Regions from separate parts of the Homo sapiens genome. Here regions 1, 2, 4 and 5 are each reported to be linked to region 3. Evidence: microRNA targets listed by miRTarBase, many of them from high-throughput screens and not tested one by one. Region 3 holds a microRNA gene; each other region holds the end of a gene's coding sequence.
Evidence for each region. Region 3 holds the annotated microRNA hsa-miR-6515-3p (UCUCUUCAUCUACCCCCCAG, at 4,726-4,745, shown strand). A microRNA usually pairs through its seed, bases 2 to 8, with sites in the 3' UTR of a target mRNA and lowers its output. Matches are read on the target gene's strand: a 7mer-m8 pairs with bases 2 to 8, a 7mer-A1 pairs with bases 2 to 7 and ends in A, and an 8mer does both.

Region 1: the mRNA of STOML1 is a reported target of hsa-miR-6515-3p. Seed matches in the 3' UTR shown: 7mer-m8 at 2,320-2,326 and 7mer-A1 at 2,225-2,231.
Region 2: miRTarBase lists RAB13 as a target of hsa-miR-6515-3p. Seed matches in the 3' UTR shown: 7mer-A1 at 1,239-1,245 and 7mer-A1 at 1,303-1,309.
Region 4: miRTarBase lists GPR146 as a target of hsa-miR-6515-3p. Seed matches in the 3' UTR shown: 7mer-A1 at 4,603-4,609.
Region 5: the mRNA of FOXI2 is a reported target of hsa-miR-6515-3p. Seed matches in the 3' UTR shown: 7mer-A1 at 2,232-2,238 and 7mer-m8 at 2,414-2,420.

What each region holds. Positions count from the first base shown.
Region 1 is chr15:73,979,442-73,985,484 of GRCh38, forward strand. It overlaps STOML1 (stomatin like 1), which reads right to left. Exons shown (of 7, transcript NM_004809.5): 5 at 5,877-6,043; 6 at 5,218-5,430; 7 at 1-4,689. The coding sequence ends at 4,496. Among named protein-coding and RNA genes, the nearest start is that of STOML1, 9.8 kb to the right of the region's middle. RefSeq lists an enhancer at 2,391-2,580.
Region 2 is chr1:153,977,129-153,983,171 of GRCh38, reverse strand. RAB13 (RAB13, member RAS oncogene family) reads left to right here. Exons shown (of 8, transcript NM_002870.5): 5 at 364-453; 6 at 572-637; 7 at 728-781; 8 at 996-1,522. The coding sequence ends at 1,073. JTB-DT (JTB divergent transcript) reads right to left here and starts at 5,429. Exons shown (of 1, transcript NR_186180.1): 1 at 4,012-5,429. JTB (jumping translocation breakpoint) reads left to right here and starts at 5,498. Exons shown (of 5, transcript NM_006694.4): 1 at 5,498-6,002. The coding sequence starts at 5,920. RefSeq lists silencers at 5,025-5,319, 5,608-5,657 and enhancers at 5,328-5,377, 5,379-6,027.
Region 3 is chr19:12,935,796-12,941,838 of GRCh38, forward strand. MIR6515 (microRNA 6515) reads left to right here and starts at 4,689; the gene lies at 4,689-4,745. It overlaps CALR (calreticulin), which reads left to right and starts at 2,814. Exons shown (of 9, transcript NM_004343.4): 1 at 2,814-2,975; 2 at 3,339-3,440; 3 at 3,633-3,836; 4 at 4,258-4,352; 5 at 4,448-4,657; 6 at 4,746-4,859; 7 at 4,949-5,092. The coding sequence starts at 2,885. RefSeq lists enhancers at 2,256-2,365, 2,436-2,485, 3,112-3,861, 3,156-3,205, 4,098-5,297 and 2 more and a cis regulatory region at 2,416-3,054.
Region 4 is chr7:1,057,183-1,063,225 of GRCh38, reverse strand. GPR146 (G protein-coupled receptor 146) reads right to left here. Exons shown (of 2, transcript NM_001303473.2): 2 at 3,965-5,734. The coding sequence starts at 5,710. The coding sequence ends at 4,709. The region is part of intron 2 of CHLSN (cholesin); the gene reads left to right. Among named protein-coding and RNA genes, the nearest start is that of CHLSN-AS1, 5.5 kb to the left of the region's middle. RefSeq lists an enhancer at 653-822.
Region 5 is chr10:127,738,369-127,744,411 of GRCh38, forward strand. It overlaps FOXI2 (forkhead box I2), which reads left to right. Exons shown (of 2, transcript NM_207426.3): 2 at 152-2,815. The coding sequence ends at 597. Among named protein-coding and RNA genes, the nearest start is that of FOXI2, 4.2 kb to the left of the region's middle.

The DNA of each region.
Region 1 (6,043 bases), not on the chromosome of region 3:
CCTGGGTTCAAGCAATTCTCCTGTCTCAGCCTCCCGAGTAGCTGGGACTACAGCCGTGTACCACCATGCCTGGCTAAATTTTGTATTTTTAGTAGAGATGGGGTTTCACCATATCGGTCAGGCTGGTCTCAAACTCCTGACCTCAGGTGATCCACCTGCCTCGGCCTCCCAAAGTGCTGGGATTAGAGGCGCAAGCCAGCCAAATAATACATTTTAAAAGGGTGTTTGTTGTATGTAAATTACACCTTTAAAAAATATGTAAATGCTAGGGGAAGAGAAACCAAACCAAACCAAACCCTGTTCTTTGCTGGAGCTAGAAATCCAAGACTTACAAAGCAATAAACAATTGGACAATAAACAGGCTGGGCTAGATGGCTCATGCCTGTAATCCTAGCAGTTAGCGGGCCAGGGCCAGGTGGGAGGATCACTTGAGGCCAGGAGTTAGAGACCAGCTTGAGAAGGCCCTGTCTCTACAAAAAAAAAAAAAAAAAAAAAGCCAGGCATGGTGATCCTTTAAGCCTGGGAGGTTGAGGCTGCAGTGAGCCACAATCACTGCACTGCACTCCAGCCTGGGAGACAGAGTGAGACCCTGTCTCAAAACAAACAAACAAAAAACAAAAAAATAACTTGAACAATAAACAAAAAAATTACACTGAGATACAAATTTTCACTTTCCAGAATGTCAAAAGACCCAAAAGTTTAATAACACAGTGTATTGACATGACTATGAGAAAAAAACACCACTGACAATGGGAGTGTAAATTGGTATAATCCCCAGAGAAGGTATTCTGGCAATATTTACTAAATTATAAATGCTTTGATTTAGCAATTCCACTTCTAGGATTTTATCTTATAGATAAACTCTACCACAAATAGCACATGTTAAAGGTTATTCATTGCAAAAGTATTTAAAATAGCAAAACACAAGAAATAATCAAAATGTCTATCGGTCCACGACAGGTTGAATAATTTATGATACATCCATACTGTGGAATCCTATGTAAGTACAAGAAAGCACAGGGAAAGGCTGTCTGTGGTAACATGGAAAGATCCTCAGTGGGTAATGTTAAGTGAAAAAGGCAACATTGTGTTTCTATGTTGCCATTTGTATAAAAACAGGAACAACAAAAACCCAGAAGATACATATTTGGATTTTCTTGCATATATTTTTTTTTAAAAAACAAAACCTTCAGGAAGAATTACCAAGAAACTAATCGCAGGGGATGGGGGAAGGCATGGGAAATATGTGTGGAGGGAGAATTTTCATAATATGCTTTCCTATCTTTTTAAATGTTTAGCCAACCAAAATTTAAATATTGGCTGGGTACAGTGGCTCACACCTGTAATCCCAGCACTTTGGGAGGCTGTGGTGGGAGGATCCTGCGAGCCCAGGAGTTCAAGACCAGCCTGAGCAACATGGGGAGACATCCTTATCTCTACAAAAGAGATTTTAAAAATTAGCCGGTTGTGGTGGCACAACCTGTGGTCCCAGCTACTCAGGAAGCTGAGGCAAGAGGATCGTTTGAGCCCCAGAGTTCAAGGCTACAGTGAGCTATGATCATGCCACTGCACTCCAGCCTGGGTGATAGAGCAAGACGGTCTAAAAAATTTTTTTTAAATGCTTAAAAATAAGGCCAGGTGCGGTGGCTCACACCTATAATCCCAGCACTTTGGGAGGCCTAGGCAGGCAGATCACTTGAGGTCAGGAGTTCGAGACCAGCCTGGTCAACATGGTGAAATCCCATCTCTACTAAAAATACAAAAATTAACCAGGTGTGGTGGTATGCGCCTATAATCCTGGCTACTCAGGTGTCTGAGGCAGGAGAATCACTTGAATCCGGGAGGTAGAGGTTGCAGTGAGCTGAGATTGTACTGTACTCTAACATGGGCAACAGAGTAAGACTCTTGTTTCAAAAAAAAATAAAATACTTTTCAATAACATCAAAATAACACATTATATATTAATATATTAACTAGGATACTTAAACTATTATCATTATTCACCAGGTTATCTTGAAGAAAAATATAATAAGAAGTGTCTAGTCCGGTATAAGGACATATTTGGCACACAGTAATGGTTACTATTTCTATACCCTGCCCCTCAAATGCCCGCACACAACCTGTCTGGTACTTCAGGTTCTAGTTCCCCGAAGCCCAGTTGCCTGACTGCCTCTTCCAGCTGTGCCCTTGCAGGGACTTCTCCTCTGCTGAATGATTTTCCCCATCTCTTCTTATTGTCCACCTACTTGGTAGCTGGGATGTGGAGGACATCACCTCCTCAGGAAAGCCTTCTCTGATTGACACACACCCTCCTCCTCCCTCTTCACACCGACCCTTTAGGTGGCCCTTGTCCTTCCTCCCCTGTGGACTGCAGGGTCTGCTCAGTCCTCTGTAGTCCTGGAGTGCTGGCCAAGGATCGAGCTCCCCTCCACAGGGTGGGGATTCATGGCAGGGGCAGGCCTTACTCTCCACCTACACAGACATCCAGAAAAGTTTCGGTTTCCCCTAAACGTTATGTTGATCTTCCCATGCTCACAAAGAAGAGTTTGGGTTTCCCCTAAGTTGTGATCTCATTTTTCCTGTCTTCCCTACCCTCCAGCCCTACCCCAGCCAAGGGGCCGTGCCAGCTTTCATGGTGAAGATGCCTGGGGTTTCCTGGGCAGCCCTTCATATACTGTGTAATAGCAATGGAAGGAATCCACAGGTGAATGCTGATGCAGGAAGCTCCCAGTCCAGCAGGGAGGGCAGCCATATATGCAAGGAGCAGAAACACACAATGTGGAATGGGTGCAGAGAGCCAGGCAAGGGCACAGAGGACAAGTCTCACTGGGCCTCAAAGGGTGGCCACAGTGTGGCTGCGGGGATTGGAGGGCAGGCTTTGGAACAGACAGCCTCAGCTAGAAAGCCCTGGGAGGGCCCATGAGAGGCCTCCAAGTAGGCAAAGGGGCAACAGCAGGTGCAGCAGCCTGGGACTCTAGGAAGGGGCCCTGGAAACCTGAACCTCAATGGCCATGGCAGTGACAGAGGGGTCTGTGCTGGGCTTTAGGGAGGTGCCTCAGGCAATGTGGAGGACCTCCAGGAGGCGGGACAAGGCAGTGTCTGGCAAAGGCAGGGACAGACAGCAAACAAGACAGAGCCAGGCACCCAGGAAGGGCAGAGACCCCTTGGGGGAGAGGGAAGTTGCGGTGCCACAGGACAGGCTGGGGGCTGTTCTTAAGGGGAGGCTTTGATTTTTGTGGTTTTGTTTTTCCCAGAAGTCTCTCCAAGGAGTAAGATTCCTTTCTTAGGACTCAAGAAGTCAGAGGCCCCCTTCTCTGGGGCCCCTGGGGTTTGGGCGAGAGTACTGGAGCAGAAAGCAGGGCTGGGCTGGGCCTGGGGCCAGACCTCAATGACTGTTTCCTTCCCGTCAGCGAGCGGAGAAGCAGTGACAGAGTGTACCAGGAGGGGAAGCTGACGGTGGCCCCAACTCCTCTCTTGAATGGGATATGACCACCCCACCTGCCCCTCAGTGTTTGCAGGACACTCTGGCACACTCATGCCTTCCTTTCCTGGTGAACCTGTATCCCACTACAAAGAGGAACAGAACTCCCCACCCAGCCCCACCCTTGCTTCCAGGGGCTTTGAGACACTCAGGAGAAGGAGCTTCAAATATTGTGAGGGTCTGTCTGTGTCAGCCACCAGGATGTCAATCCCTGCCTGGGCTGGCAGCATGGACCTTGTGGACCCTCCTAGCCCACCCCATGCCCCCAGGAGCCCCGCTTGGCTTCTTCTCTTTTATACATTGTAAACACCACATTTATTTGTCTGAGGCTTGCAAACCTCTGGTAAGAAGCACAGAACGCAGGGCTCTCCTTCATGCTGCCCTGGGCCCCAGCTCGCCAGGCATGCAGGACAGAGCTGGCAGATGAGTCAGAAATCTTTGGGAGCAGCGCCAGGGAAGCAGCAGGCCCTGCTCCTTCCCATGCCCAATCCCGCCAGCACGGGCCTGGACTGCAGCCAGGAAGGTGGGCCAGCCAGGATCCCCAGGTAACTTCGCCACAGGGACCTCTTCTTGGAGCTGCCTTCCCTTCCCTCCCCATCCCTCTCCAATCCCCGCAGAGCTTAGAGCCTGGGCCACATGCTTGGTCCCTCACACAAGGACCAAACCAGCTGCTGTCAGGCTGTTTCTGTGGGTCCTGTCTCTCCAGTCAGGAAGCCAGCAGGGCAGGGCAGGCCTGGCTCTCCTCCTGGAATCACACCGTGCACCCAGCTCAGCGCTGGGCACTCAGCTGGGGACCGGGATGGACAAAGCCTTGTCCAGAGAACCACTGTAGGGGAGACGTGCATGGCAGCCGGACTCAGCCTCCTGCAGCCTCCATTCATGGGCTCTTGGCTGGGCCTGAAATTTGTTAGGGCCTCAACTCTCTGTGGTGCAGATGAACACCTCCTCCTCCAAGAGGCCCCTCAGGCTTGGTGCCAGGCTTGGGACTGGGCTCTGGAAAGTCAGCCAAGGCTGCTACTTCAAGGCCCTGAGGACAGCCTCCAGCTTCATGGCCATAGCCAGGTCGCCCTTCACCTTCAGCCGTCCACTCATGTAGGCCCCCAGGGGCCGCAGCTCTCTGCATAGCAGGGCCCGCAGGTCTGCCTCGGCCATCTCCACCACCACATCAGGGATGCCATCAGGCACCCCGTGTCCCACTCTTCCTCGTCCTGTGGGGCAAAAGAAAACCGAGTGTCAGTAGGGGAATGGAGGAACGTGAAGGAGATCTATGGGGGTGGGAGGGGCTGGTATTTCCCATTGGGAGGAGAGTACTGGTTAAGAGTTTGGGTTCTAATACCCTGGGTTTGAGTCTTATTGGCTGTGTGAACTCTTGGATCCTCAGTTTCCAAATCTGTGATGATAATTCCTTTAGAGATGACAATTCCTAAAGCATAGGCTCATGGTGAGAAGTGGGTGAGATAATGTACAAAAAGTACTTGGCACAGAGCCTGACAGGCAGCAGGCCTGTAACACGGGCAGGCCTCTTGGTATTGGAAGCCTGGCTGCATTGTCCTGCGGATGGCGGGGAGACCAGGGCATAGTTAATGCCTGGAAATGGTGTCTGAGCCCCTGCCTGCCATGGGTTCACCCCAAATTATTGGCAGGAGCAGGGGGCAGTCTACGAGAGCACCACTGGGGTAGGTAACAAGAAACCTAGCAAGCTGGATGGGAAGGAGAGGCAAGGAGGGCAGCGGCACCTGTAGTGAGGTCCAGGAAGTAGGCGCTTTGGGTGCCGCTGGGCAGGACGACATTGAACTGGTAGCAGGCCCCGACTTGGCTGACCAGGGCCTCAGACAGGAAGGGCTGTAGAGCAGTCAGTAGCCCCTCCGCCAGAGGCTGCTTCGGACTGGACCTGGCACCAACTTGAGGGGCAGGTGGCTCAACTTCACTCACCATCTCCACGGTGTCTGCTGGGGGTGGCCAACAGGGTTGGGGAAGGAGGCAGAGAGGAGGTCATCGTGTTGCCAAGGTCAGGACCACTCACTGTGGCCTCTGCACCTTTTGTGGCAGTTTCCTCTTAGATCCCCTTCAGGCCTCTGTTCAACTTCCTCCTCTACCAGAAAGGTGCCCCTGAGTTTTCAGCCTAAACTGCAAACTCAGTTTCTAAACTACTCCAGCCTCAGATATAAAATTCTTTCCAGCTGCCCTTCTGGTGATGTCGCCTCCTCCCATGGAGGCTGCCAATGGCCTCTACACACTCAGACACCTGGCCTCCTCTCACTGCCTTGGCTGTGGTCAGTGTGGGCTGAACATCTGTGCAGGGTGTGTACTGCACAGAGCTGCTGGGATAGTGAGCAAAGTCTGTGCTGGCACCAAGCTGGTAAACACCCCCGCTCTCCTCCCCAGGGCTCCTCACCTGGCCCCGGGGACGGGGCACCTCCTGCCATTGAGTTCATGCTTCCTCCCAGGAAGTGCAGGGCCAGCTGCTGGAGGGTGCTGTCCAGGTTGGGCCCAGCTGGGCTGTCCTGGGGCGGCTGGAGCACGGCCTCCACTGCCAGCTCCACGCGGTCTACCTCCAGCCCC
Region 2 (6,043 bases), not on the chromosome of region 3:
ATGAAGGGGTCCATCAGGATAGGCAAGACCTAACTTTTTTTTTTTTGAGATGAAGTTTTGCTCTTGTTGCCCGGGCTGGAGTGCAATGGCAGGATCTCGGCTCACTGCAACCTCTGCCTCCCAGGTTCAAACGATTTTCCTGCCTCAGCCTCCCAAGTAGCTGGGATTACAGGCATGCACCACCATGCTCGGCTAATTTTGCATTTTTAGTAGAGACGGGTTTTCTCCATGTTGGTCAGGCTGATCTTGAACTCCTGCATCAGGTGATCCACCCGCCTTGGCCTCCCAAAGTGCTGGGATTACAGGCGTGAGCCACCGCTCCCAGCCGGCAGGACCTAACTTTTACTTGTCTTTTGCCCCCAGAATGCCTCGGCTGGGGTGGAGCGCCTCTTGCTGGGGAACAAATGTGACATGGAGGCCAAGAGGAAGGTGCAGAAGGAGCAGGCCGATAAGGTGAGGGCCAGGCTGAGCAATGTTCTAGAACTGGGCTGGGAGGGCCAAGATAGGTTGCATTGCAGAGGACTTGGCTGCTGTCCTTAATTCAATTCTCTTCCCACTTCACCCCTTATAGTTGGCTCGAGAGCATGGAATCCGATTTTTCGAAACTAGTGCTAAATCCAGTATGAATGTGGATGAGGTGAGATCCACACCCCCATCCCCGACCAAGAGAGGAAGTATTAGAAGGTAGATTCTCCTCCCTCCAAACTGACTCTGTTCCCCACTTTAGGCTTTTAGTTCCCTGGCCCGGGACATCTTGCTCAAGTCAGGAGGCCGGAGATCAGTAAGTTGGTTTTGCTGGACTAGGTACAACTCTGGGGTGTGTGTGTGTGTATGTATGTGTGTGTGTGTGTGTGTGTGTGTGTGTGTGTTGGTGTTGATAAAAACGGGGAGCAATGCTAAGATTTCTCATGAGGGTGGATTTACTTTAAACAGTTTATACCCTCCTACCCTAACCATCCATTCACACCATGACACCTGTGCCCTTCTCCCTCTAGGGAAACGGCAACAAGCCTCCCAGTACTGACCTGAAAACTTGTGACAAGAAGAACACCAACAAGTGCTCCCTGGGCTGAGGACCCTTTCTTGCCTCCCCACCCCGGAAGCTGAACCTGAGGGAGACAACGGCAGAGGGAGTGAGCAGGGGAGAAATAGCAGAGGGGCTTGGAGGGTCACATAGGTAGATGGTAAAGAGAATGAGGAGAAAAAGGAGAAAAGGGAAAAGCAGAAAGGAAAAAAAGGAAGAGAGAGGAAGGGAGAAGGGAGAGGAATGAATTGAGGAAGTGAAAGAAGGCAAGGAGGTAGGAAGAGAGGGAGGAGGAAAGGAAGGAGAGATGCCTCAGGCTTCAGACCTTACCTGGGTTTTCAGGGCAAACATAAATGTAAATACACTGATTTATTCTGTTACTAGATCAGGTTTTAGGGTCCTGCAAAAGGCTAGCTCGGCACTACACTAGGGAATTTGCTCCTGTTCTGTCACTTGTCATGGTCTTTCTTGGTATTAAAGGCCACCATTTGCACAAATGTTCCTGTTTTGGGTAACTTGGATTATTGTCAGAATTGTTCTCCACTCAAATCCAATTATTGTGTCTTCAAAGTGATTGATTTACCCAAATCAGGCTCGGTTTCTGTGGAACCAGGACTAATCCTACTGCTGTCTCTTCCCTAGCTGTTCTGTTGGTAAGGAAAATAGCAAAGAGCAGGAGGTAGAGTGATCTGAAGGTCTGGATATCCTCTTTCCGCCATGGGGTCCGGATGCCCTTGTGGGCAGAGCCTTGTCCTGAGCACAGGAAATTCCCAGCGAGAAGAACTCTAACAGTCCTAGCCTCAGGGAAATAACTGCACCTAGTGATTTATCCAGTGATTTGTGCAAGCTTCTTTGATTCTGCCAGCAATCCATTTAGTTATTTGATAGGCATTAATATCTGCTTTTATTAGTGAGGAAAATGAGAAGTTCATTTATTCATATATGTATATTGAGCATCTACTAAGTGCCAGGCACAATGGTCAGTTATTTTATTTATTTATTCATTTATTTTTAGGGACAGAGTCTTGCTCTGTCTCCGAGGCTGGAGTGCAATAGTGCGATCTCAGCTCACTGCAACCTCTGCCTCCTGCCTCAGCCTCTCAAGTAGCTGGGATTACAGGCGTGAGCCACCATGCCTGGCCAATAGTCAGTTAATATAGCCCTTTGGTGGTACTTACAAGCAGAGGGACAAGGACTTTTTTTCTTTTTTAAGACCGAGTGTGGCTCTGTCGCCCAGACTGGAGTGCAGTGGCACGATCCCAGCTCACTGCAACCTCTGCCTCCCGGGTTCAAGCGATTCTCCTGCCTCAGCCTCCCGAGTAGCTGGGATTACAGGCACGTGCCACCACACCTGGCTAACTTTTGTGTTTTTAGTGGAGACAGGGTTTTGTCATGTTGGCCAGGCTGGTCTTGAACGCCTGGGCTCGAGTGATCAGTCTGCCTCAGTCTCCCAAAGTGCTGGGGTTACAGGCGTGAGCCACTGCGCCCAGCCTGGGACAAGCAAACTTTAACAAAAACAGCTCTTTGGCTGGGCGTGGTGGATCACAACAGGAGTTCAAGACCAGCCTGGCCAGCATAGTGAAACCCCGTCTCTACTAAAAATACAAAAAAAAAAAAAAATTAGACAGGAGTGGTGGAGGGCGCCTGTAGTCCCAGCTACTTGGGAGGCTGAGGCAGGAGACTCACTTGAACCTGGGAGGCAGAGGTTGCAGTGAGTTGAGATCACACCACTGCACTCCAGCCTGGGTGACACAGCCAGACTCTGTCTCAAAAAAACAAAAACGAAAACAAAAACATCTCTTTGCTGAATAACAAAGATGGCAAAACTACTGGAAATGCAAAAGAAAATTCAGGCTTGGGCCGAGCACGTTGTTTCATGCCTGTAGTCCCAGCACTTTGGGAGGCCGAGGTGGGTGGATCACTTCAGGTTGGGAGTTTGAGACCAGCCTGGCCAACATGGCGAAACCCCATCTCTACTAAAAATACAAAAAAAATTAGCTGGGCATGGTGGTGGGTGCCTGTAATACCAGCTACTTGGGAGGCTGAGGGAGGAGAATCGCTTGAACCTAGGAGGCAGAGGTTACTGTGAGCAGAGTTCGCACCATTACACTCCAGCCTGGAGACAGAGCGAAACTCCATCTCAAAAAAAAAAAAAAAATTCAGGCTTGATGCACAGCATCCTTAAGTATATATATATTATATTATATTATATATTACAATGTATAATTATATATATTATATATTAAATATATAGGAAATATATAATATATATAACATGTATATGTTTATAAACATATAACATATTATATATAATATATAATTATATATTATACATATATATTAAATATATATTATAATTATATATTTAATATATAATATATTATGTTTAATATATAATTATATATAATTATATTATGTTTAATATATAATATATAATACATATTTTAATACATAATATATATATATCCCCCTTTCACCATACATAATATTTTTTACACAGCAAAATGTAATAACTTGATAAATGTAAGTATCCAAGCATTGATGAGGTAATGATAAACCTTATTTGTGGCTTATGCTTAAGTTCTTTTTTTTTTCTTTTGAGATGAATTCTTGCTCTTGTTGCCCAGGCTGGAGTACAATGGTGTGATCTCGGCTCACCGCAACCTCTACCTCCCGGGTTCAAGTGATTCTCCTGCCTCAGCCTCACGAGTACCTGGGATTACAGGCATATGGCACCATGCCCAGCTAATTCTGTATTTTTAGTGGAGACGGGGTTTCTCCATGTTGGTCAGGCTGGTCTTGAACTCCCGACCTCAGGTGATCCGCCCACCTCGGCCTCCCAAATTGCTGGGATTACAGGCGTGAGCCACTGCGCCCAGCTGTGTTTGAGTTCTGTAGTAAACTGTCCGGTAGGTTTAATTTGCTCAAGCGATGAGGAAAAGACTTGCACTTTGTGCCTCCTGGGAAAGAGACTAACGTCTTCAACATACCTTATGGCAGATATTTAATTTCAGAGTAGAGACCCCACTCTGATGCCTGGTAAGGTTATTGGAAGTGAAATATCACAAGATCTTACAGTTTGTTGTGAGATAAGGTAGGATTTGGTGAGGAGTAACAAATACTAGCAGATTTCGGCCCAAACTTCAATTATAGCTAAACATTACTGGAAAAAACCCCACAACCTACTTTATGTAACATATAACTACTCACACACATACACAAAAATAATACACACACAATTTCAGCAAACACAAATAATAATTTAAAGAAACAAATTCAAAATTAGAGCCAGGTATGGTGGCACATGCCTGAAATCCCAGCTACTTGGGAGGATCCCTGAAGACGAGAAGTTCCAGGCTGTAATGCGCTATGATGGCTCCTGTGACTTGCCACTGCACTCCAGTCTGGCAACATAGCCAGAGTCCATCTCGTTCAAAAACAAAAACAAACAAACAAAAAACGGCGAAATGAAGGCTCAGCCCTCATCAGGTTTAGGTGACAGAGCTAGACCCTGTCTAAGAAAAAAAATAAAATTAAATGAAAATTCGTTATCAGACAGTAAAGCATGAACCCACAGTGCTGGTCAAGTCACTGCAGATCTGAGTGTGTATCAAGGTTTAACTCCATAAGATGAAAAGCAGGCAATGAATCTTTGGCCTGGGTGTTGACAGTCTAGGCTCAAGCCTCAGCTTTCCCACTCATTAGCTTGCTGACCTTGGACAAGTCACTTATATTCTCTGAACTTACTCATGAAACGGAGATACATTTCATCTGCCTCTCGCAAGAAAAAGTCCTGGTAAATACACATTAGCATTTCCGTTTTACACAGAACACTGACAGATACTTTCCTAAGATCATGGAGTTAATAACCACCAGAACCTAGACTCAATACTTATGGAACTTCAAATCTCATGCTTTTCTCATTGCACTTATGATTACTCCATTATGTAGGAGCAAGGGAGAGTTGAGAGCATTTGAAGAGGTTATGCAAAGGACCAGCTCTGAGGAGTAGGCTTAGCAAAGTAACATGAGGGAAGGTAACACCGTTCATCTGTGTAGCGGAGTGGGAGCCAAGAGACAAGGAGAAAGTTTCATGTTCGTCATGTGTCTCGGATATTCCGGTTTCTGCAGGGACGAGAACGCGCAGTTTCGCCTCCATCCCTTGACCTCCAACACAGCTTCTCCACTGGATCATCGGTGGCGATGAAGGGGCGGCTGGGGAAGGATGTCAGAGAAACCAGAAGCTTGACGGTGAATCCTCGGGTTTTAAGGAGAGAGCAAAGTCCTGAGAGGGCGACGTATTGTCCCTGCTCACCTAGCCCAGAATGAACAAACACGCGCCAGCCAGGGAGCAGCGAGCCGAGAATTCGGACGAGCCTCTGCAACCGCCATTTGCCGTTCTCGCAAAGACTACCAAGACCACAATGCAACGGGGCGCCGAGCTAATTCCCAGTGAGCAGCAGGCGAGGCGCCACCGACGCGGAAGACTATAAGCCCCAGCGGGCGACGACCGAACGCCCCCGGGAACACCGGGCCCCGAGCTCGGTCCCGCGCCCGAGGATCCTCCACGGGGCTAGATGGCTGCGTCGGGGGCGGGAGCGGAGGTGAGCGGGCGCTAGGGCCGCGAGCCCCCGCCGGCCCTTCCTCCAGCGCCCTGCGGACCCCGCAGAAGGCGCTCGCCTCCCTAGCCCGCAAAAACATATCGATTTTTCTCGCTGTGGCAACGGGGACGTCCTGATAGATCCTCTGCTCCAATAGGCAACTCCGGCCTTCCCTGCCCTGACCTGGAACCTCTGGGAGGGCTGCAGAGTAAGTGCCGCCTCTGCGCTCCGACGGAGGCACGAGGCCTGTGGAGTAGGTCCCTCTGTTCCGACAGGTGCGACACTTGGCGCTCCATGCTTGCGGGTGCCGGGAGGCCTGGCCTCCCCCAGGGCCGCCACCTCTGCTGGTTGCTCTGTGCTTTCACCTTAAAGCTCTGGTAAGGAGGAGGTAAGGGGAGGGAAAAGGAGGTCACTGGAG
Region 3 (6,043 bases):
CATCACAATTATTATTTGAGTCTGTAAAATGGGATTACTCATATCCCCAAATCCTGACCCTATATGAGGTTCTGTATTAAGGATACATTTCTCAAAGTCCCTTCTCTCCTCCCATTTTATGTTGATTATTTATTTATTTATTTAGGGAGTGGGTCTCACTCTATTGCCCAGGCTGGAGTGCAGTGGCATGATCTTGGCTGACTGCAGCCTCCACCTCCTGGGCTCAAGCAATCCTCTCACCTCAGCCTCCCGAGTAGTTGGGACTACAGGTGTGTACCAGCAGGCCAGGCTAATTTGTGTTATGTATATTATATATTATATGCTATATATAATATACATACTATTCATATATTTATGCATTATATGTCATATATAATATATTACATATGTGTACATATATATATTTTGTAAGAATGAGGTTCCACCATGTTGCCCAGGCTGGTTTTGAACTGCCGGGCTCAAACAATCTGCCTGCCTCAGGTTCCCAAGGTGCTAGGATTATAAGTGTGAACTACCATGTCCGGCTTATTTTTATTTATTTTTGAGACAGGGTCTTGCTCTGTAACCCAGGCTAGAGTGTGCAGTGGCAACAACACAGCTCACGGCAGCGTCAACCTCCTGGTCTCAAGTGATCCTCCTGCCTCAGCCTTCTGAGTAGCTGGGAACACAGGCAGGCGCCACCACGCCTGGCAATTAAAAAAAATGTTTTTGTAAAAATGGCCTCCTGCTATGTTGCCCAGGCTGGTCTTGAACTCCTGGCCTTAAGCATTCCTCCCATCTTGGCCTGCCAAAGTGTTGGGATTACAGGCGTGAGCCACTGTGCCCCGTGTGTTTTTAGTTAATTTCCACAAGAGTCCTTCCTTCCTCTCTTCTATCATGCAGCAAGTACTTTTTAAGCCTGTTCTGTGCCAGGTGCTGCAGGTGACACTGGAGGATGCGAAGTGAACAAAACAGGCAGTGTCTAACCTCAAGTAGGAAGCGCCAAGCCCACAGGTGCCTGACACAGGAACAGGAGGAAGGGTCAGCAAGAGGCCTGGGATGGTCCCCGGGATCCTCATGGGGGGGACCAGACTAGGCAATACTGAATACTACCTAGAGGAAGTGGTAGAACCCCAACTTCCCAGTTCATTCTCCCCCGTCTTTTTTTCGAGATGGAGTCTTGCTCTGTCACCTGGGCTGGTGGGCTGGAGTGGAGTGGCGTGATCTTGGCTCACTGCAATCTCTGGCTCCCAGGTTCAAGCGATTCTCCCACCTCAGCCTCCCGAGTACTGGGATTAGAGGCACCCGCCACCACGCCTGGCTAATTTTTATTTATTTATTTATTTTTATTTTTAGTGGAGATGGGTTTTCACCTTGTTGGCCAGGCTGGTCTCGAACTGACCTAAAATGATCTGCCCGCCTCGGCCTCCCCAAGTGCTGGGTTTACAGGCGTGAGCCACTGCGCCCGGCCACCATTTCTTTTTTTTTTTTTTAACCAGAGACCCTTGCCAAGTCATTCCCCCCACTCCACTTTATTTTCCTTTTCATTTTTTCCTTCCTCTCTTTTCTGAGTCACAACCATTAGCCAGGAAGCACCCCCTCCCCACCCTCTTTCCTGGATCCCCCTCATTCCCTCCTTCCATAGTCCACTCCCGCGCTCCCAGGTCCAGGGCTTATTTGCCCAGAGTTTGGAAAACCCCCAGCTCTCCTTCCTCCTTTCTACAGCGTGGGGGCAGGGTACTGGTGCCAGTCACGTGCCTCTGGCTTCTGAAGAAGACTCTAGACTGGGGTCGGGGGGTGGGTCCTGCCCATCTCCCTAGCATCTTATCGTCCCTACCATCTGTGTCTTTTTTCCCTCCCCAAACGGAACCCCCTGCCCTCTCGCCTGCCTATAGCCGTTTAATTGCAAAAGCCAGGCCGTTTGTGGGAGACCACAGACAGCGACCCCCTTCATTTACCGGTTGAGAGGAGGGTAAAGGGGCGGCTGCAATCTGGGTAATAACCCTATCCCCACTCCAGAAGTCACAGTCACATCGTTAAGCCTTCCTCCCCTCTTGTCCCAGGACAGCTTTAAAAACGTTAAAAGCATTTCTGCTGGGTAGCATCTGGCCAGGGTCGCCCCCTCTGTCTGCTCAGGAACGTCTGTCACTTCAGAGAGCTTAAGTGACTTGCCCCGGTCACACAGCAGCAGTCCGATAGGCTGCCAGGGCTCTAGGGGCAGAAGGAGGAGAGGGCTGGCATTCTTCCCACCGGCCCGCGTGACTGTAGCACCGGGGTGCAGCGAAGCCCCAAGGGCCCCAATCCGTGAGCTCTCTCCCATCCCAGGCAGGGGTGGGGGAGCAGCAGTGGGGTGCTGGTTCTCAAATGCAAGATAAGAGCTGGCTAAGAAAGCCTTGCCCAGCCCCTCCACCTAGAGGGAATGGGAGGGAGAGAAGCTGAGGGCAGGGTCCCGGTCCCGCGTGGAGACAGCTGCGCTCCCGCGGTTTCTTTAAACGCCCAGATGGGCAACGACGCGCGCGGACGAGGGCGGGGTTGGGTTCAGGTCTGGTCACATGACCTGGCCTGAGGTGCTCGCGGCCCCCACCCCACCAGTGGGCGTCCCCCCCACGCGTGGTCGACCATCATTGGTCGGTGGTGAGGCCAATAGAAATCGGCCATCTGGGAACCCAGCGTTCCGAGGCGCAGCCTAACATAGTGAACCGACGAAGGTCCAATGGAAAAAGACGGCCATGGGCATAGACCAATGACAAAGTGGCAGGGGCGGGCCCAAGGGCTGGGTCAGGTTGGTTTGAGAGGCGGGTGGGTATAAAAGTGCAAGGCGGGCGGCGGCGTCCGTCCGTACTGCAGAGCCGCTGCCGGAGGGTCGTTTTAAAGGGCCCGCGCGTTGCCGCCCCCTCGGCCCGCCATGCTGCTATCCGTGCCGCTGCTGCTCGGCCTCCTCGGCCTGGCCGTCGCCGAGCCTGCCGTCTACTTCAAGGAGCAGTTTCTGGACGGAGGTAACGCCTGGTCCCGCCTCGAGGCCGCCCCGACGACGCGGCCGGCCCCCGATCCTGGATCTGCGTTGTCGCCCGTAATTACCGTTTAGAGGTCCAACACGGTGGCCTCCCGGGACTAGAGCCGCGGGCGATTTCTCTTCTGCGTCCCTGGGGAGCGCGGAGGGCGTAGCGGCCTCCCGCGGCGGGAGTTAGGGTTAGCCCGAGGATCTCTGAAGGCACCCGACGTGTCAAACTAGAGGTTGGAATGGGGAGTGTCGGGGATCTCCTTTCCTGTCCCCAGCAGCTTGTGGCTCTCGGCAGATGTTTGGTGTGGGGGGGGATTAGCACAGCCGCTCTGACCTACCCCTCTAATCCCCCACTTAGACGGGTGGACTTCCCGCTGGATCGAATCCAAACACAAGTCAGATTTTGGCAAATTCGTTCTCAGTTCCGGCAAGTTCTACGGTGACGAGGAGAAAGATAAAGGTAAGAGCCTAGGAGTGGGTGCTCAGATCCGGGAGGACTTCCTGGCAGAAGTCCTTGTCTGTACACACACAGCCGGGACAGTCCCCTTGGAGGAGGACAGGTGGAGGAAGTGGGGGAGTCTTCTCTATTCTCTAAGTCGAGGGTCCTCGCGAGTCAAGGCCCAACGGTGACCTCACTACCGTCCCGTCTCAGGTTTGCAGACAAGCCAGGATGCACGCTTTTATGCTCTGTCGGCCAGTTTCGAGCCTTTCAGCAACAAAGGCCAGACGCTGGTGGTGCAGTTCACGGTGAAACATGAGCAGAACATCGACTGTGGGGGCGGCTATGTGAAGCTGTTTCCTAATAGTTTGGACCAGACAGACATGCACGGAGACTCAGAATACAACATCATGTTTGGTGAGGGCCTGCTTCCTGGTGCTGATCTCTGTCCCATTAGTTAGAGGGAGACCCAGACCCCATTGACTTTCTTAATAATGATTTTTTTTGGAAGGGGAGCTAAAAGAATAAGTCCCAGCAACAATTTATTGCATTATGATCGCAGATCTAGGCTGTTAATTTAATTTGCGTGTTTGTATATAGTTATTTCCCAATCTTACTAATGAGGATTTTGAGTTCTAGAGCACTGATTTTTTTTTTTTCTCCTTTAAACTTAAGGCTCCACCCACAGCCCATTCAGGACAGAATCAGGGTCTGAGTTTCTCTTCTCAGCCTTGACAGACCCGAGTTGAAGAACCAGGTCTTCCTTTTATAAAGAGGGGTGAGAGCCTCGAGATGATGGGTAGTCTCTGACTCTTAACTGGATCTGCTTCACACCTAGGTCCCGACATCTGTGGCCCTGGCACCAAGAAGGTTCATGTCATCTTCAACTACAAGGGCAAGAACGTGCTGATCAACAAGGACATCCGTTGCAAGGTGTGCCTGGGGGTGGTGGCAAATGGCTGTCATGGGGAGATTCAGAGGTCAGCCTCATTGGGGGGTGGCCCCCGCTCACCTTCTTCCTTCTTCAGGATGATGAGTTTACACACCTGTACACACTGATTGTGCGGCCAGACAACACCTATGAGGTGAAGATTGACAACAGCCAGGTGGAGTCCGGCTCCTTGGAAGACGATTGGGACTTCCTGCCACCCAAGAAGATAAAGGATCCTGATGCTTCAAAACCGGAAGACTGGGATGAGCGGGCCAAGATCGATGATCCCACAGACTCCAAGCCTGAGGTTGGTGTTTGGGCAGGGGCTCTGCTCTCCACATTGGAGGGTGTGGAAGACATCTGGGCCAACTCTGATCTCTTCATCTACCCCCCAGGACTGGGACAAGCCCGAGCATATCCCTGACCCTGATGCTAAGAAGCCCGAGGACTGGGATGAAGAGATGGACGGAGAGTGGGAACCCCCAGTGATTCAGAACCCTGAGTACAAGGTGAGTTTGGGGCTCTGAGCAGGGCTGGGGCTCACAGTGGGGAGTGCACCAACCTTACTCACCCTTCGGTTTCCTTCTCCCTTCTGCAGGGTGAGTGGAAGCCCCGGCAGATCGACAACCCAGATTACAAGGGCACTTGGATCCACCCAGAAATTGACAACCCCGAGTATTCTCCCGATCCCAGTATCTATGCCTATGATAACTTTGGCGTGCTGGGCCTGGACCTCTGGCAGGTGAGACTTGGAGGAAAAAGGAGGATCCCTGGGGTACCTCAAGTGCATAAGATCACCCAAGAGGAAAGGGACAGGGTAGGCACCCCAGGTGAGTCTGACTCAAAAATGGTACTTCTTGTAAACAGTACTTCCTGGTCTGTCCCTGTGAAGTCCTCACAGCAACCCCTTTAAGGTTATACTTGCTGTGCACCAAGTACTTCCCCAAGTACTTTTATGCAAATCAACTTCTTTACCCCCAAAGACCTAGAAGGTGGTCAGGTAACCCAGTTAGTTAGCTGGGGCTGGGCACAGTGGCTCACCCTTACAATCACGGTACTTTGGGAGGCTGAGACAGAGGATTGCTTGAGGCCAGGAGTTACACAACTCAACCTAGCTTGGCAACACAGCGAGGAGACCCTATCTCTACAAAAAAAATTTTTTTTTTTGAGACAGAGTTTCACTCTTGTTGCTGAGGCTGGAGTGCAATGGCACGATCTCAGCTCACTGCGCCCTCCGTCTCCTGGTTTCAAGCGATTCTCCTGCCTCAGCCTCCGGAGTAGCTGGGATTACAGGCATGTGCTACTATGGATGCCAGGCTAATTTTTTTTTTTTTTTTTTTTTTTGAGACCGTGCCTTGCTCTGTCGCCCAGGCTGGAGTGCAGTGGTGTGATCTCTGCTCACTGCAAGCTCCGCACGACCCCCCAGGTTCACTCCATTCTTCTGCCTCAGGGTCCCGAGTAACTGGGACTACAGGCACCCCCCACCATGCCTGGCTAATTTTTTTGTATTTTTTTTTTTAGTACAGACATGGTTTCACCGTGTTAGCCAGGATGGTCTCCATCTCCTGACCTCATGAACCACCCACCTTGGCCTCCCAAAGTGCTGGGATTACAGGCGTGAGCCACCTCACCCAGCCTTTTTGTAGAGACAGGGCTTCATGTTGCCCAGGTTGGTCTCGAACTCCTGGCCTCA
Region 4 (6,043 bases), not on the chromosome of region 3:
AGCGTCGCGTGGAAGCCCCAGATGTGGCCGGGGTCAGCTGGCAGTGTCAGAGCTGTGTTCATCTTGTGGTCCCCCAGCGAGTCAAGGTGGCTGAGCAGGATGGGGCGTGGGTCTGTGAGCGATGCCAGAAGACACAGGATGGAGGAGCCCAGAGAGAACGGAGGGGGCAGGTCAGATGCACTCACACGCTCAGGCTTGGCAAAGCCAGGCAGGCCCAGAGCGATTCTGTAAGGGTTAGGGTTCAGATGAGGGTGTTGAGGGTTAGGGTTAGGGTGGTTAGGGGGTTAGGAATAGGGTGTTTAGGTGAGGTTTAAGTTGGTTAGAGTTAGGGGTTAGGGGTAGGAGTAGGGGTACATGTGAAATGGGCATGTTCACGTTATGCTTCCTGCCTAGATTCTCTGCTCTTCCTTCACTTCCCAACCTGACGGAGTGCGGACCGTGCGCACCGCCATACAGCTCTTGCCAGGCTGCCCTGTGCAGCAGGGCGGAGGCAGGAACGTGTGCTCTCACTTCTGCCGGAATCCTTGGGAGGGCTGCAGGATACCCCAACACCTCAGTTCCATCCTCAGGGCCACAGAAGCCCTCAGGGGTGTAGTCAATGGTGACTTTATTCTTATTTTTCTGGGAGGAGTAACGCCTGTGTGGGGCAGGCCTGCTCCTTCAGCCCGCGTGGCTTACTCCTTCGCCAGCAGCCAAGGTACTCCCTCTGCTACCGTTTGAGACGTGTGGAGACATGGTTTGCGTGCCGGGCGTGTGTGAAGTGGAACCACTCCTGGGTGATTGGGTGGACAGAATTTCTGCAAAGAGGAACTACAGAGGGGTAACCGAAAGTATTAAGACGTACAATTCGAGGGGAAATAACCAATTTTATGATACTTTCTGTTACGGTTACTATTCCTGCTTTCCCTCTGTCGTGTGCTGTGTATGAAAGAAGACGTGTGTAGATTTCCTGATCTCTTCGCCACAATTCACACTAGATCCAGCTTCCTACAATAACTCTTAGAACTTTAATGAAGTGAATCTACAACTAAACTCCCTTTCTGGAATCTTACTTAAGGAAGCAGGGCAAGGTTTTTTTGTGGATAAACAAAAATAAGATGAATGATTTTTGAACTATAGTAGTCAAGAAGTGTTGGTAGCAATATCATTGACCCTGGGACGTCACGCGCTGAAAAACTCGCATCCTGGTGTCTCACAAACTGGGGAAGAATTGGGGAGTTGGGCAGACGGCTGCCTGGAAGAATTAAGCAGTTGGAGAGATGGCTGCCTGGAAGAACTAGGGAGTCGGGGAGACGGCTGCTTGGAAGAATTGGGGAGTTGGGGAGATGGCTGCCTGGAAGAATTGGGGAGTCGGGGAGATGGCTGCTTGGAAGAATTGGGGAGTTGGGGAGATGGCTGCCTGGAAGAATTGGGGAGTCGGGGAGATGGCTGCCTGGAAGAATTGGGGAGTTGGGGAGACGGCTGCCTGGAAGAACTGGGGAGTTGGGCAGATGACTACCTTGACTTTTTACAAGTAGCTCCTTTTTCTGCCCCGAGTGGCTCAAGTTCTTGTGTTCTGTGTGTGATGAGGTGAAGGCTTTGGGAATCTCTCAGGGGCGGCAGGAGGCTCAGGAGGTGCCGAATCTTCCCAGGTGAAGGCAACATAGAATATAGATGAGCAGGTGTCTCAGGAACAGTCAGCGACGCAGCTCCTGGGAAGCAGCCACAGAGACTGGCGGGAGCCTGGGGATGAGGACGGAGGCCTTGGCGCTCAGTGGAGGGTCTCAGGCAGCAGAGGCTGGCGGGAACCTGGGGATGAGGAGGGGACTCGCTGGGTAGGGGGTTGGGGCAGGCCATGGTGCACAGTGAAGTGTCTCAGGTAGCAGGCGAGGGTCTGCGCTGGAGGCATGTGCCTGCCCTGTGTGGGGCCCACCAGGAACAAACAGCTGACCAGGCAGCAGGGTGTCCCTGGGGCCCTCCACAGGGCCACCCAGCAGGGTGGGATGAGGGGTATTGAATGCAGGCCAGTCCCTGCAACAGACCCACAGAAATGAGCCAGTTTGCACCCAAAGCCACTGAGAAATTGAAATAGTGATTTTAGGCCCCTCCTGCCTTTGGGGAGGATAGTTGGATGGTGTAATTCCCGGGCAGAGGCAGCCCAGTGCCACCCTCACCTGTGTGTGGGGTCCGCCCCTTTCCTGGGAGCTCAGCGTGGAGCCAAGGGGGGCTGGAAAGTATCGGCCAGGAAGAGGGTCTCCTGGTTCAAGCACGGACACCCCACCCTGCAGAGCTGGGCTGCAGGGGTAGGAGGGTTGGGCTGACGGCGCCAGCCGCTGGGCAGGGTTCTGTGGGCTTGTGTGATCACTTCCTCATCGGATGCCAGGGTTTCCGCGCAGGCATGGAGATGGGAAGCCCAGGACCATCAGAGACGCGGCCCTTACACCAGCTCCGGCTCCAGAGGGACTGGGAGGGAGGTCAGGCCTGCGGCTTTAAAGGTTCACACCTGAAAACCAAACACTGACAGAAACAGCTCAGAAAACTGTTCTCTAATCCCACGGCTTAGGAGCCTGTCCCGCGGGTCTGAGCTCCCCGCAGGAGCCACCCAGAGCCGCGTCCTCACGAGGCCGACTCTGACCTGCTTGCAGCACGTGATGAATAATGCCAGTGACCTCGTGGCTGAATTCCCAGGAGACTGGGACCAGAGCGTGACGTCCCCACGTCGATGGCTGCAAGGTGCCACTCCCCCCACCCTACCCCCACTGTCCCTGGGGCCGGGCATACTCAGAATTCCAGCGCGTTCAGGCTGTGGGGAGGAAGTGTGCCACAGAACCCCGGGGCGCTCAGGGCAGCTCCCACAGCCACATCGCCCGTCTTCAGAAGGGGTGGGGTCCTCATGGACATGAAGCTCTCACACCCCTTCAGGTCAGGGATCGCTGCCCAGTGAATTTGCCGCAAACTTGGGGGGAACATCTTCCTGTTTTCAGAGCTTTGTGGGCTTTAGAATTGGAGGTAGGGGATTGCAGGCCTATACTTTAATCCTAGAAAATCGGGGAGAGGCGAACAGATGGTGGGGAGGAATGGGGGCTTTTCTCACGGCCACATTTTAAAGTAGATGTTTTACAAAATCCCAATGGGTGGAAGGTCTCCAGCCAGGCTGACGAGGAACAATTGCCCCTGACTATAGACCCGCCTCACTAAGACCCGCCTCACTACGGACCCGCTTCACTACGGACCCGCCCCACTACAGACCCGCCCCACTAAGACCCGCCCCACTACGGGCCCGCCTAAGACCCGCCTCATTACGGACCCGCCCCACTAAGACCTGCCTCACTAAGACCCGCCTCACTAAGACCCGCCTCACTACGGACCCGCCCCACTACAGACCCGCCCCACTACGGACCCGCCTCACTACAGACCCGCCCCACTACAGACCCGCCCCACTACGGGCCTGCCTAAGACCCGCCTCATTACGGACCCGCCCCACTAAGACCTGCCTCACTACGGACCCGCCCCCCTAAGACCCGCCCCGCTAAGACCCACCTCACTACAGACCCGCCCCACTACGGACCCGCCTCACTATGGACCCGCCCCCCTAAGACCTGCCTCACTAAGACCCGCCCCACTAAGAACCACCTACTGACCCGCCCCACTCGGGACCCGCCTCACTAGGAACCGCCTCACTACCGACCCGCCCCACTAAGACCCACCTCACTAAGACCCGCCTCACTACAGACCCGCCCCACTACGGACCCGCCCCACTATGGACCCTCCTCACTGCAGACCTGTTCGCTCAAGTGGAACAGGCCGGTCCGGGCCCCATCTGAGGCTGCGAGGGCCGCGGAGATACGGATGCTGGTCCCAGGTGCCTTCGGAGCTGGCCTAAGGTTCCACCCTGGCCCTCCCACCAGACCCCGTGTGACACAGCCTCCAGCCCTCTGTCCCCTGGGGGCCCTTCAGCTCTGGTATTCAGTCAGAAATCCTAACACACCTTTCTTTTGTTTATTTATATTCTTTAGTTTTGTGCACACTTTGAGGAATTGATTTAGGACAGGTTCATACTGAAAAAAACCTCAGCTGATGTTATCTGTGGGGGCTGGGGAGGGTGTCAGGGACATTTGGTGGCTGAGGAGAGCGCGTCACTGCTATTGAATAGCTCCATTTAACACCAGCCATGTCTCCGCGTCTCAGGCACTTCTGTGAAATGTTCTCAGAACCCTGTGGTGACTGCGGCACACCCGGCAGGCCTTGCTAGCACACGCCGCCCACTGGCAGGGCCCGGCCACCCTGGCTGTTGCCATTCTTTCGTAGGGTTTTGTTCATTTTACTATTTGTCATTTTTCTAGGAAACATCTGTTTTTGTAAAACAAACAAGGGGGAATCAAGTATTTTAACCACAAAGTATAAATACTGGCTCTAAGCTTTCATCACTTCATTGACAAACTGAATGCTGAGGAGGCTGAAGGCGAGGAGGCTTTTGCGGATGTGGACCTTGAGCTGCGTGTTTGGGAGACGCACAGGCCTCGGGGAGACTCAAGCCAGATGCCAGCCACGGGGACCACAGCCTTGGCCCAAGAGTGGCATTTGTGGGAAAAAGGAAACTTCAAGAAAAACACCCCTCCTGCTTCTCTTCCAGCAGCTCGTCTCCTTCTGGAAGGATGTGGGGAGCGTCCAGGGTAACTAAGTGCTCTGCGTCCACCAGAGTCACGTCTCCCCAGGAGGGCTGGGCCGCCTACGCCAGCACCTGCTGCACCCCCATGTGGTCCGGGGAGCAGTGCCGGTCCCCGCAGGGCAGCTTTTTCATCAGCCGTTGGAGCTTGCTGGGGAAGCTCTGGTTCATGTAGCGGTAGAGAAGTGGTGTCACAAAGCTGCTGGAGAAGGCCAGGAGTTTGGAGAAATCCTTCACAAAGTGCAGTAGCCCCAGGTAGTGTGCGTCCACGGGCTTCCCTCGCGAGATGATGACCGTGTGCCCCAGCAGGATCAGATAGTGTGGCGTCCAGAGCCCAAACTGCGTGCACACGGTGGCCACCAGCAGCCTGTGTGCCGAGGGCTCCAGCCGGCCCGTGTCCCGGTCCAGGGGCGTGTCCTCCCTGCGGACGCGGGAGAGTAGCACCAGCGCGTAGAGGGTGGCCAGTGCTGGCACCACGTAGCCGATGAACACCAGCGTGGCGTCGGCAGCTTCTGCGTTCTGCATCTTGGCGCACTCTAGCGCGCGGGTGGACACATGGCTGCAGATGTAGAAGAGCAGCGAGGAGAAGCTGGTCAGCAGCGCGCCACCCCACACGAAGCCGCACACGTGCCGCGTGTTGTACACGCTGGCCATGTAGGTCCGCGGCAGTGCACGCTCGATGTAGTGGTCGAGGCTCAGCAGGGCGGTGGAGTACATGGCCACCAGTGAGGACACATTGAAGGGGATCTGCAGTGCCACGTGGACTTCGCCGCCCACACTCCACAGCGCCCACCGGGAGCTCGGGGGGCCGAGCAGGTGCACAGGGGCCAGGGCGCTGAGCACCAGGCCTGCCACTGCCATGTTGACAAAGTACACGTCCGGCATGGTCATGCTGGCCTTGCTGTGTAGGTTGGCCAGCACCAGCAGGGCGTTGTAGCACAGGCCCACTGGCACGCCCACCACCAGGCCCAGCAGCGACAACAGTGACAGCCCCAGCTGCAGGTCCTGGCAGGCAGGCAGCTCCTCCACCAGCCCTGTGCCGTTGAACCAGCTGCAGCTCCACATGGCGGCCGGCGAGGCTCCGCGACCCTGCGGAAAGAAGGAACAGGTGGTCAGCTCGCGTCCCGTCCCAAAGCCCTGGCCCAGAAGTGCTGCAGGTACAGGGGTGCCTTCTCCTGGTGCAGTAATCGCTGCAGACCACAGAGCGAGGCTGCCTTTGGTGCATTTCTGTGAAAGTGAAGTTGAGCGTTGAAAAATGGCCGTCTCGGGTCGTGACCGGGGGCTGCTGTGGCTGCACTTATTTCAGCGGCTGGGGTTGGGGACCAGAGAGGGAGCCTGGTGTGCCCCACATTCTCAGAGCCCACTCTTCACGGGCTGCTGCGAGGCCTGGGTGGTCGT
Region 5 (6,043 bases), not on the chromosome of region 3:
AGAGTGCCCGTCAAGGGTGGAATGGGGGCGAGGACTCAGACCCTCTGTAAGGGCCAGCAGGGGATCTTTCTGAAGCTGACCTCCTCGCTGGCTCACACCACGGCCCGTCAAAGCTCGAACCTTCTGAACTGGGCTGTTTCTTCTTCTGCAGGTAAAGGCAATTACTGGACCCTGGACCCCAACTGCGAGAAGATGTTTGACAACGGGAACTTCCGAAGGAAGAGGAAGAGGAGAGCTGAAGCCAGCGCGGCCGTGCGCTCGGGAGCCAGGAGCGTGGGAGGGGCCGAGGCGCCAGCGCTGGAGCCCCCGAGCGCGGCTTGCCTGGACCTGCAGGCCTCGCCCTCTCCATCCGCACCCGAGGCCGCCACCTGCTTCTCCGGTTTCGCTTCTGCTATGAGCGCTCTGGCTGGCGGCCTTGGCACCTTCCCCGGGGGCCTGGCGGGCGACTTTTCTTTCGGGAGGCGGCCACCGACAGTCGCCACCCACGCTCCCCAGACCCTTAACCCCTCCCCTGGCTTCGCCCCTGGCCACCAGACCGCGGCCGCCGGCTTCCGCCTCAGTCACCTCCTCTACAGCCGGGAAGGGACCGAAGTTTGAAGGGAGGCTGGAGGCTAGCCGGGTGCGGGTCCAGAGGTGCTGAGCTCAGGCCTCCGGTTTCCCCTGGTGACAGCCCCACGTGTTGGCGTTGAAGGCCTTGGTGCCCTGGGAGGAAGCGCAGAGCCGGGGGCGGCTCGGCCAGCAGGGAGCTGGGCTGAGCGGCTCTTGGGCTTTGGGGTGGGTGGCCCTTCTGCTGTGCACCCCTCACCCAGGCGACCTTCGGAACCTCCCTGCTCTGCCTCTAAGTCCAGCCGCCCTGGGCGTCTAGAACCTGTGCTCTCGAGGGATTTGCCTTGAAGGGGCGGCGGGTCGGCCCTCAGCTCCAGCGTTTTCCAAGGAGGCTGGCTGACTCCAAAGAGCCTTAGAGCAGATGGGAAGAAGGTGGGCTGCCAGAGCGGCCCAGGTGGTGGGGGCCCTTTCCACCTCCACCCAGCTTGGCCCACCTGGCTCAGGGCCTTCCCTTCTGCTTCAGGGAAGCTGCCGCAGGGGCTGGGGGACAGAGCTCAGGAGCAGCTGCAGTGGGCTCCAGGTGGGCCAGGAGCCTGCAGTGAGGGGATCTGAGACAGTTGGCATTGGGTCCTGTGTAAGGAAGGTCTTGCTAATGGTTGGAACTGCTGGTGGTGGGAGGGAGAAGCACTGCGTGGGCAGAAAGCGCCCTTGGGATACCAGCTCCCTTCCCTGTCACTCAGCCCTGGTCCTTGATGACCCCCCTCTAGGACAAGGCAACTCCCCAGGGCCCCGCCACCACTGACCACAGGAGCGGTGCCCAGCACCCAGGAGTTCCCCAAGGGTCCAGGTTTGTGCCACCCACACCCACACTCACACCCACACTCACACCCACACTCACACCCACACCCACACCCACACCCACACTCACACTCACACTCACACCCACACTCACACCCACACTCACACCCACACCCACACCCACACTCACACACACTCACACCCACACCCACACTCACACCCACACACACTCACACCCACACACACCCACACTCATACTCACACTCACACCCACACTCACACCACACCCACACTCACACTGACACCCACACTCACACCCACACTCACACTGACACCCACACTCACACCCACACTCATACTCACACTCACACCCACACTCACACTCACACCCACACTCACACCACACTCACACCCACACACACCCACACTCATACTCACACCCACACCCACACTCATACTCACACACCCACACCCACACCCACACCCACACCCACACCCACACCCACACTCACACAGGCTCATGGAAGGCCACACTTGTTTTGGTCTCTTTCCCCTCCAAACCCACAGTTTGAGCCAAAGCTGTGCGTGTGTTCAGAGCTCCTGAACAGCAGCCTCCTGTGTAAATTGAACCCTGCCCCACCCAGTTCCTTCTTAGGGATGGTATCTTTGTGAAGGACAAGGAGCCCCCAGTCACTGGGAAGAGGAATTTTTTGGCCTCTGTACTCCTTAGAGGACCTAAGTGCCCCAGTCAGATGCCCTGAGTCTTTGTGGCATCTGGGACTCCCTGGAGATGGAGACGTTGGTGGGGGGGGGGTACCCACCTTGTTGTTGATGGGGGTACCTATCTTCCCTGCATTTTGGGGGAGGGTGGGAGGGGTCCTTCCCAGGAAGAGAGTGGAGACAGGTTACTGTTACTTTGGAGTGGGACAGGCTGGTTTAGCAATCCTAAGCCCCAGCCACGCAGGTATTCCTGATCTGCCTGCAGGGCCCCTCACTGCAGCTGCCACCAGTGCTGGAAATGAGAGCAGGGCTCCTGACTGTCCCTAGAGCTGACTCATCATGGCCCTGCTGAAGAGTGAGGTGTGTGTGTGTGTGTGCGTGTGTGCGTAAGACAGAGAGGGAGGGAGAAGGAAGGAGGCGGGGGAACATGGAGAGAAGGAGCCAGGAGTTGGGATAAACCTGGCCCTGGTCATATGTTTCATCAGCAGTGGCTCCTAACTCCACGTGCCATCTCTGCTGCTGCCCTCCACAAGCAGGTGAGCAGAGTGCCAGTTGTGTTGAAGGTGATGATGTCGCCTAACTAAACTCACAACCAACCCGCAATCTCTCTTGGGGGGACACTCCCCATAAGCAATACAATTAAAGAAGACCAGGAAAGGAAAATAAATTCCTTAGCTTATACATTTAAAAAGTATCCCTTGAACCTATTTTAATAGAATGAAATGCTAAAAATAAAGACCAATATAACATACATAGCTGGCATGTGTATGCTATTTCGTATAAGAATTCCACTGCTATGACAAACATCCCCATTTTAGAGTCTGAACTTGCAGGAAACTTGGAAAGATCTTTTCCTAATTAAATTTGACAACAGTTGGAAAATGCAATGGACAATTGGACAATCAGTGGAGCTTTGAGAAAATTGGCTGACACGTGTGGATGTAAACATGGAATGTCATGGCTGCATGACTGCTAGATGTTGGGAAGCTGCTTTTTTTTTTTCTCTAACAATGGTATTTATGTTAAAATTGAGAAAAAAATATTTAAGATTTTTCAACTTTTGGTTTGTTGCCCAAAGATCGTTTTTTACCGTTTGAAAGTTGCTCATTTATTCAAAGCTTTATACCATTAGTAGGTAATAGTATAAACAAATAGGTGAAATCTTCATGAGAAAAGCTTGGTTAAAAATACTTCCAGCAGTGCAAGGTATTTGGACATGGGTGGGGTTAGATGGCCAAACCATTCTCTCCTCCAAAACAGCCCACATGCCTGGATGTGCTTAGGAGAGGGGAAGCCAGGCCAAAATGCATTTCATAGGCCCAGGCATGGCACAGTCAGCTTCAGACTCATTATCCCAAAGAAACATTTTCCCATAGCAAAGAAACTGTTGAAATCAAAACAAAAAAATGCAGCTTGAGGTCACTTTATGGTTAAATACTTTCTTCTGGCCAGGGCTTGGTGAACTTGACCACAGTCCCTAGAGCTCACTGAATGCAGGCAGCAGAAGGACGTGGTCCTGTTGGTCAGGCCAGGGCATTGCTGCCAGGTGGCTAGGAGGGTGCTCTAACCCCGGGGTTCTGAGCCCACTGTGGCACTCAGATCCCATCTGCTCCCCTGCCCTGTCTTGTGTGTGTGTGTGTGTGTGTGTGTGTGTGTGTTTGAAATCGTGAATCCTGCAGACAATTCCAAAAGTAACTGTGAAACTTCAATGAAAGGAAAACCTCTGCATCGTGGCATAGGCACGTGGCAGTGTGCCATAGGAATATCCAATTCTTAGTCTGAATAAACAACTTGGTGGCACTGAATAGTTTCAAATATAGAAGCAAGCTTCAAAATTCAGAGGTGAAAGACAATTAAAACATGCCAAAATATTGGGTGATTGGGAATTCTTTGCATTGCCAAGCAGCAGTGGTAATTTCCTAGTGACTGAAAATGAAAGAGAATAATAATACAGGAAACTGTAATCTGTCCTAGAAACCTTTGGTCACTGGGTCAATTATCCCCATACAAAGAAGAACCATTCATGAAGAAGACTCAACATTTGTTAGAAATGTTTTGTAAAGTGCCATATATAGTGTTTTAAAAAGTGAACATTGGATTTCAAGATATTTCACATATTGATTAAACATTGAGTATGTTTTTTTCTGATGAAAAAGTTTTGCATTTTAGCAATGCTGCCTTGGGATATTAATCCACCTTCAATCTTTAGTCTTCTAAAATGTATCTGCTGGTCAAGTGACATTTTTCATTCAAAGAAATACCATTATAGTAATTATTAGAACTCTCTCTTCAGTGAAACAGAACACTGAAGTTCATCCCCATTTTGCAGATAGAAAAGCTGAGTCAAGGGGCTAAAAGATCTCCAGAAGCTAAACTGATGAGAGCTAAAAGGGACTTCAGATGCACCTGCAACTTTTACGTGGCTCATATTCACAAATGCACCTATTGATGGACATGCGCACACGCGCACACGCACACACACACACACCCCACACACACCACCAAACCCCATCTTGGGTAGGATCTTCAAGGGAAAAGCCACAGATTACACCCCCTACCCTCCATACCTAAAGGCATAGTATTTTCAAATAACCCTTTGAGTTCAGGATTTGACTCCAGGTAGGAGAGAAACATGTGGAACCGCCACAGAATGCAATAGAGGTTGAGTCACTTGTATCCTAATAAAATGTGACTTGTTCAGTCTATCTCTTTTGAGTGTTAACTATGTGGTATTAAGTCATGCAGTGAATAAGCTGAGCCTGTTGCTACCCTCACAGAGCCTCCTTCCAGTGGTCGGAACAAAGATGAGTGAGCAATTACAGGCTGGACGTGGCTTTTTGGCTCTATAAGGATTACTTATAGATGATCAAGTCATCAACCATCTCACTTGTTAACACAAGTAACATATTGTGTCTTATATACAGACCCCAGTGTGTTCCACACCCTGCTAACTCAGGAAGTGTTTGATTTCTCAGTTTCATAACTTCTTTGTGATTTTAGGCAGGGAGTTAAGCACTGCCCCGGGCTGGTGTAGGTCCCATCTGCTCACTTTTCCACAGTGTCATTTAGGAAACTTAAAACCTGTCCTCATATTAGAAGATCTGTCATTTGGCAGTGACAGGGGAGACAATTAATGTGACCAGAGTTGGCCCTTCCCCAGGGCTTCTGAGTGTGCAGTCCATCTATAGGTTAAAGTTTTTAGAGCTCTTTTCTTTTAATCTAATTTAAATTTGCGGATCAACGTTATTCAGGGCTAACCCCTGGGTACCTGCAATAAACTACTTTCTTTGGTCAGATTTCATCAGTGGCTGAACACAAAGAATTAAAAATATCTTTAGTTTCACCCATTTCATGGAGGGCAATAAATAGTATATTGAATTGGACCTTCACCAAGAAAAGAAAGAAAGAAAAGAAAATTGGAGTTGCGTCCCTGCTGTAATCTAGAGCAAATTAAACTTACAAGTCATTGAGTCTTTCTCTACCCCTAAGAGTCACCCATTCATCCATCAGACAGATTGAAGGTCAAGGAAAGCGTCAGGGACTCTGTTAGATGCTTCCTGTGCGTTTTTCATTAAGCCTTCACAGCAACCCAGTGATGCCCCTATTATCATCCCCATTTTACTTATGGGGAAACTGAGGCTCAGACAAGTTAACTGACTTGTTTCTCAGAGGCCACAGATAATACTGAGCTACGTCAGTAGCAGCCTTCCTACTCTCTGTTCCTGACTTTTCTGCTTCCCCCTTCATCCCTCAGGTGCTAGAGAGACCTCACTTTTCCAGACTCCTTCTGACAATCCAGGTCCAAGTTAAGTGCCCTTTGGTGTGTTCTTGGGGCCTTGGATGTATTGCATCACACCCACAGAAGACCAAGTTCCTTCCTGCCTCTTCTCCTATGGTTTATGTGGGAAGGGACCAGCTTGCTTTCTTCCAGAGTAACATCCCTAGAGCCAGGAAGACTGTGGACAGGTGGTAGCAGTTG